Linked DNA regions of Homo sapiens. The protein of the gene in region 1 interacts with the protein of each later gene in a pairwise test. Each region holds a gene or a part of one and is shown on either strand. Other genes may lie near its edges.

What was found.
Region 2: the proteins of EHD3 (region 1) and RAB11FIP2 interact in a two-hybrid assay, tested with the Homo sapiens proteins (one study listed by BioGRID).

What each region holds. Positions count from the first base shown.
Region 1 is NC_000002.12:31,257,874-31,261,697, reverse strand, and holds part of EHD3 (EH domain-containing protein 3), read right to left. Parts: intron 1,189-3,824; coding exon 776-1,188; intron 150-775; coding exon 1-149. UniProt on the Homo sapiens protein: ATP- and membrane-binding protein that controls membrane reorganization/tubulation upon ATP hydrolysis. In vitro causes tubulation of endocytic membranes. Binding to phosphatidic acid induces its membrane tubulation activity.
Region 2 is NC_000010.11:118,036,664-118,040,487, reverse strand, and holds part of RAB11FIP2 (rab11 family-interacting protein 2), read left to right. Parts: coding exon 1-365; intron 366-1,047; coding exon 1,048-1,516; intron 1,517-3,824. UniProt on the Homo sapiens protein: A Rab11 effector binding preferentially phosphatidylinositol 3,4,5-trisphosphate (PtdInsP3) and phosphatidic acid (PA) and acting in the regulation of the transport of vesicles from the endosomal recycling compartment (ERC) to the plasma membrane.

The DNA.
Region 1 (3,824 bases):
TTGGGGAAGTCCCCAGGTGAGATCTGGTGCTCCCGCTCGATCCGGCCATAGATCTCGGCCAGGTTGTTGACCAGCTCCTTCTTCTTGTTGTCCTTCCCGAACACCGAGGGCATCTCCTTCTTCAGAGAGCTGATGATGTAGGCGTGGACCTGACAAACAGGGCCAGAGAGAAGCCTTCACATCAAGACCCTGGACGGTCCCTTCCTTCTAGGATGGCTCTTGCATCATTCCTTCCCCTACATCCCTCCCGCCTCCTCCTGCTCCTACTTTTGAAATAATTTCTACCTCTACCCTCATGGCTCCATGTTGCTTGCAGGGCTGGGCTGTTTTTCTATGTTATGTGGGCAAGGTGAGGTTGTGGGGAGCTATGGTCAAGGCAGGGTGAGGTGGTCATGTTGCTGCTGCTGAAGGCAATACCAGCAGCTGACAGTTGCTGAGCATCTCTGAAGGTGCCAGACACTGTGATGAGGGCTTTGAGACTCTTTATTTCACTTTATCCTCCAACAACCCCTTCATTTTACAGATGCAAACAGAGGCACAGAGAGACTAAAGGCCTTGCCAAGGCTGGGAATCCCACAGACAGTAAACAATGGAGTCAGTTCCAATCTGGCCATCTGACCTGAGAGCTTGTAACCATGGCTCCCGCACTGTCCTGCCCCTTGGTGTCACACACATGATGCACTGGCTGTTGGAGGCAGCAACCCTCAGCTCGTGCAGCTGACCCCAAACTCTGGGCCCCTGCCCAAGCTGCCCACCTCCCAGGGGGCTGCCTCACCTTGGCCAGCCTGGCCCTTTTGATGAGGTCGTTGAGCTTGCGCAGGGCAGCATTTCGGGGCAGACTCTGGATGTCCCTGAATAGGTCCTGTTCCTCAGCCTCAAAGAGCTTCCGGTTGTCAGGGATGAGGAGGGGGTGGGACCAGAAGGAGCCGATGTAGACCCGGATCACCTCTGGGGTGTTCACGATCTTCCCCAAGGACCACATGAGGGCCCCGTACACCCGCATCAGCTGCTGCGTCTCGATCTGGTCAGCTTTGTTCAGCACCACTCGCATCTTGTCCTCGTGGTTCTTGAGGGCTTTGATGACTTCTGAGAACTCATCAGAGATGTCCAGTTTGTGGGCATCGAAGAGCAGAATGATGCGGTCAACCCGCTCGGCAAACCACTCAAGGACAGCTGCAAAGTCATACCCTGCCGGCAGAGGGACAATCAGGGGCTGGGGCCTTTGGGGTATAGGGTAGGGGTTTGGAGAAGCAGTCGGGTGTGGTAGAAATAACACAGTCTTGGGAGTCAGATCTAAGTTTAAATCCTGGCTCCTCCACATTTTAACTGTTTGGACTCCAGCAAATTACTCAATGTCTCATAGAATTTTTTTCGTCTAAAAATACTGTTAAATACTAAAATAATATGAATACCTAGTTAATAGAACTATGAAGATTAAATACTCTTAGAATCCGGCACTTAGTAGGTGCTCAGTAAATGCTAGTTACTTTTTTTTTTGAGACGGAGTCTTGCTCTCTCACCCAGGCTGGAGTGTAGTGGCACTGCCTCTGCTCACTGCAACCTCTGCCTCCTGGGGTCAAGTGATTTTCCTGCCTCAGCCTCCCGAGTAGCTGGGATTACAGGCATGCGCCACCATGCCCGTCTAATTTTTGTGTTTTTAGTAGAGACAGGTTTAACCATGTTAGCCAGGCTGAGTCTTGAACTCCTGACCTCAGGTGATGCGCCTGCCTTGGCCTCCCAAAGTGCTGGGATTATAGGTGTGAGCCACCGCCCCCAGCCAGCCACTGCGCCTGGCCTAGTAACTCTTATTAACGTCATTATTTCCATACCAGCTCCCCTATCCGTGCTTACTGTATTTAGCAGCCCGCTGGAAAAGAAAGTCTGGACACCTAATCTGACACAAAGACCCAGAAATTCTTTCTAAGGTCTGAAAACAATGAAACACTAAAAAGTAGATACTGATGATGGTTCAGACCATGCCTGTCACTGGTCTGGAAGAAATCTGCAATTCTTGTTATAAAAACATCTTGTTCTCACTCAGGCTCTTTCCTTTGTAATCAGCTGCAGCACAAAATTCCCAACTCTTGAAACCACAAGGGGTTTCTTCCTTAGGATGTGACTGGAACTCTGGCCACCCGCATCTTGGTTATCTAGCACTAAGCTGCTTTAGGTCAGACTGGTTACAGGAGCCCCAGAGAAGTTGTTCTGCTCAATCCCAAGTAGCTGTGGATCCAGTAGGAGCTGAAGTAGGAGGGTGGACCAATAGTCTATACATTCACTGACACCCAGAGCCCCAGTAGGTCTTACCTCTGTGTCTCAGGCTCCTCTTACATAAAATAGGAAGACAAGAGATAAGGAAGTGGGGCTCAGAGAAGTCAAGTGATTTGTCGAAGGGCACACAGCCCATGAGCAGCAGCAGTCGCATGAAGATGGAGGTGTTAGGCTTTCCCATTCTGAGTCTGAGCAGGGTTCTCAGCCTCTCCTCCTGCCACTCCCCCGTGGCATACCTCTGGCACCAAGGTAGGAGCCCTTTCTTGGGTACTAAAGTGACCAACCATCCTGGCTCCCCATAGCACAAGGGTTCCAAGGTGACACACACTGGGGACCCAAAGCTCATTGCCACCATCGAATGGGAAACCAAATCATTAGGAAAAAGCCTGCCCTGCCTCACAGAGGGAGGCTAGAGACCAGGCAAGATCATCAGGCAACTGCCTTGTGAGTGAGTCAGACTTAAGAAGCTCTGACTGTCTTTAACAGGGGTCCTGACTTAGCCTCCATCAGAATCCCCCCAGGGCTTCTTAAAACCCAGATGGTTGGACTCTATCCCCAAAGTTTCTGATTCAGTAGGTCTGGCGCAGAGCATTTCTAACAAGCTCCCAGGAGATTCTGATGCTGTTGGTCCAAGGGCCACACTTTGAATACCACTGGCCCATAAAAATAACAATAGCATTCAAAAGGTGTTCAGCACTGACCTAAGTACTTTATAATCATTCATTCCTTTAATCCTCACGATGACTCTGTGTAGGGTCATTAGACACTAATATCAGCCCCACTTCTCTGAGGAGTAACCAGAGATACAAACAGATAAAGGAACTTGTCTAAGGTCACCCAGCTGGTAAGCAATGGGCTGGGACTCAAGTCCAGGAAGGTAGCCCTGGAGTCAGTGCTATGAACCACTGCACCGAGTTGGCTTTCACTTTCAAAGGCTGTCATTTCAGACTAAGTAGCAGGCATCGATGGGGTGGGGGATGAGGATGAATGGAGCCAACGGAGCTAGGTTTAAAAAGCCTTTCCCCCACCCTGTGGCATCTAGTGAACACCCAGTGGGGTACATATTTAGGACGTGTGGAGGCACTGCCACAGGGGGTAGGGGGATGGGATCAGACGGTCGGGAAAACTTGCTGCCCTAAAGCTTCCTGGAGGACCCCTGTAATGTTTCCCTGGTGGCTGTAAGAGAATTCTAACAAACAAAGGAAGGTCAAACCCTCCTTTGGTTACCCGGATGCCAGTACTACTCCATTTTCAGCTCCTCTGTCTTTGGTAAATGAAGTGCTTCCAAGCATTCCCATTGCCATGTGATTTTCTCCAAGATCTGTCAGCTGCTCAATGAATATACAGCTCAACTAACACCTGAGCCTTCTCCCCCTGCTCCTGTGGCGTAGACCTATGAGGCTACGAGGAGCTTAGCCATCAATGGTCCAACTTCCTGATTTACAGATAGGGAAACTGAGGCTCAGGAAGGGGCAGAGCTGGCCCAGTATCTCCAGGTGCCATCCTGAGGATAGTTCCTGATGGGTGCGTCATCGAGGGCCTGGTGTGAACTA
Region 2 (3,824 bases), on another chromosome or scaffold:
GAACAATATGACCGCAAGTATGTTTGACTTATCAATGAAGGACAAAACCAGATCTCCTTTTGCAAAGTTAAAAGATAAGATGAAGGGTAGAAAAAATGATGGAACATTTTCTGATACGTCTTCTGCAATCATTCCAAGTACTCACATGCCCGATGCCAATAGTGAATTTTCAAGTGGTGAAATACAGATGAAATCCAAACCAAAAAAGCCTTTTCTCTTGGGTCCTCAGCGACTCTCGTCAGCGCATTCAATGTCTGATTTATCTGGGTCCCATATGTCTTCTGAGAAACTGAAGGCTGGCACCATAGGTCAAACACATCTTCTCGGACACCAGTTAGATTCCTTTGGAACAGTTCCAGAAAGTGGTAAGTGTCACATTCTTGTGTACTCATTGGTCTGAACTACCCTTTTAGTTTTTAAAGTTTAATTTCTAAATTTAGTAAATCAAAATAGCAGTTGCTTTGTAGTATTTTCCAAATTTTGTCATTCATCAAATATTGAGTACCTACTATACCTCAAATTGGTAAGTTCCTTGAAGGCAGAGCTTGTCTGCATTTGTATTTATATTATTAGATGATAATAAAATGAGTGCCAGTTTCCTTTTATGGCTTGGCTGCCTGTTTTACTGCTGTTTCTGCTATCTCAAAACCCTGAGCATAAATGAATGTTCCATTTCATCATAAAGTCCTTAGAAGAAAACTTTTATGTTCAGAAGTAAGAAAGTAAATTTAATGCTAATGAAAAAGTCTCTGAGAATTTTTAACATTATCATGCCAACCAGAACCTCTAGTTTTGACATCATAGTTTATATGATTGTGAGCTGAATACATTACTAATGGTCTAGCAATATGCTAGTTGTTATCAGCCTCGATGCTTCAGACTGCTACACCTTAGCATTTTAAGATTGTTTCCTTGATTTTTTGAAGGTTAATACATTTAAGTGGCTAATTGCTCTCATTCTAAAAGCAGCAGAATGCACACAGACTGTGTCAAATAGTGTGATGTAATGTGTCACTGATTATGTACTAACTACAAAATTGTTTGTAGGAAGTCTCAAATCTCCACACAGAAGAACATTAAGCTTTGATACTTCTAAAATGAACCAACCTGACAGCATTGTGGATGAAGGTGAATTGTGTTTCGGAAGACAAAATGACCCATTTACAAATGTGACTGCTTCATTACCCCAAAAATTTGCAACACTGCCAAGGAAGAAAAATCCATTTGAAGAAAGCAGCGAAACATGGGACAGCAGCATGAATTTATTTTCAAAACCAATTGAAATAAGAAAAGAAAATAAAAGAGAGAAAAGGGAGAAAGTTAGCCTGTTTGAAAGAGTGACTGGAAAAAAAGATAGCAGAAGATCTGATAAACTTAACAATGGGGGATCTGATAGCCCTTGTGACTTGAAATCACCTAATGCATTTAGTGAAAATCGCCAGGACTATTTTGATTATGAGTCAACCAATCCATTTACAGCAAAATTCAGGGCTTCAAATATAATGCCATCTTCAAGGTAAGCTTAATATGGGGGAAGTTCTACTATTTGGGAAAATCTTGTACTTGAAGGTATCAAATATTTCTTTTAAATGCTAGAATATTTTCAAGTCATTTTATTTTATTTGAAAAACATTTTTATTTGTATAATTAAATTATAGAGCCAGGCAATGTTGCATATATTTTTGGAACTGAACTTTTTTATCTTAAGAAGATAAAAGACTCTTATTCTCTATCCTGGTCTACTTCCACTTATGTGAGCCAGAAATTCACCAAAACTTAGAAAACAACATGGCTTGTGATGAGACATGGCGAGAGTGAATTGCCAGTGGGTGTTAGTTCAAGCCAGAAATTTAGGTGATAATGTTTCTAGGGATTCGTTCATGGGCTACCTGGAAAGGACCAACAGCAGCCCATGTGCTATTCTTTAAAAAACGCCAGCTTCAGTATTAATGGCTTTCCTAATAGATGTTAATTATCCTTATTAAATGGCTATTTAGAAGTGGTTTTTATTTGAGAATGCTTGTTATTGGAATTCAGTAACCCTCATGGGTTCTGTAGGTATACCCAAGGGATCTATATGATGATTTATAGTCAGAAATAATCACTCATGAGAAAGATTGGATTTTCCAACTTTGAGTTTTCAGTTATATATATAATGGTGCTTTTCTTATTCCTTAGTATATCTAAATTATATCTATATATCTAAATTTAAATCTATATCTATATAAATTTATATCTACATATATAGATATAAGTGTAGATATGCTAAGGAATAAATTTAAATATGGTTATGGATTTTACAGAAGTAAACGATGAAATAGCTGATTAAGGAAACCTCAAGCAAAGAAAAGATAAATTTATTCCCATCTTAAGTATAGTTGGCCCCCCATATTTGCAGGTTCTGCATTTTTGGATTCAATCAACCATGGAGTGAAAATATTTAAAAAAATAAATAAGAAATAACAATATAGTAATGAAAAAATAATGCAGATTTAAAAAACAGTACAGTGTAACAACTGTTTACATTGGTTTACATTGTATTAGGTATTATAAGTAATCTAGAGATAATTTAAAATATATGGGAGGTTGCGTATATGTGCAAATACTGTACCATTTTGTATAGGGGACTTGAATATCCCTGGATTTTGGTATCCTTGGAGTCCTGGAACCAATCTCTCTCAGATACTGAGAGATGACTGTAATTATCTTGGAAGAGCATGCTAGAGTGTTTACCACGTAATAGAAGATTTTCTTCAAGACAATATTATAGAGTGTACAGACCTGAATGGGAATACTGGCTTAGAAGTGCTATGACCTCCATAAACCTCAGTATCTCCATCTTTGAAACAAGGAAAATAATCCCACTTGATAGGATTCGGTGAGGATAAATGAAAGTACATAATACAAAGCCAGGCCCCAAATAGGGAATCCATAAATGGTGACTACAATTATGTTTGATGTATCGTCATGTTATATTTTACTAAAAAACAGTGCTTTGTTTTGTCCCACTAGAAACAGCAAATAGAGTATTAACAATCAATCACTTTTAGGCTGTGCCCTCTCACCTCTCTTATGTATCTTCCATGATATTTTAAAAATTTGCATTTAAATTTTCAAAGTGAAGTGTACTTTTTTTGTTTTCTTTTACCTATAAATGGATATTTGCCATGGTTTAAAAGAGTATTCTGTTCTGTTTATAAACCATACTCCAGAAGAATAACATTTTTATCATATGGTATCAATATTTTATTGAAGAGTTTATAGTTTTGATATGCCATTCAAAAATATTTTGGTATTTTACATACTGTACTTCACATATTACATTAAATCTTATATGGGTAAATAGAAATATATTTGCTTCTTTCCCTCTTTACTAAACTTTTTTTTACAGAAGGTTGTTGGAAACAACTGTCTGAGGTAACTTGGAGATGGGGCAATTTAGCTAATTTTAGAGTCAGAAGAAAAGCAAGAAAATGGAAAATGATAGGAAAATAATGTTTTTACATTATGGGTGCATATGGAAAAAAAAGCTTATTGAGTATTTGCAAATCTTTAATTGCCCTGTATTTGAGTTGTTTATGTGGGCTGTTACGGGTTTTAAAAGTGCCTGTGGCATTTTGACACATCCAGGCTTTGTTTTCAGTTACTTTATTATTATTGGCTGTTTCTAGCAAAATTAGAGCTGTTTTATGATGTATGAAATGATTGCAAGTATGTAAAAAAAAATAGTTGTTTTTCATTTTATGACTTTCTCTTCTTCATATTTATGAGATGCCAGATATGAGGACAGAACATTTGTGGATTCCTAGGAAGTTATTCTTTTT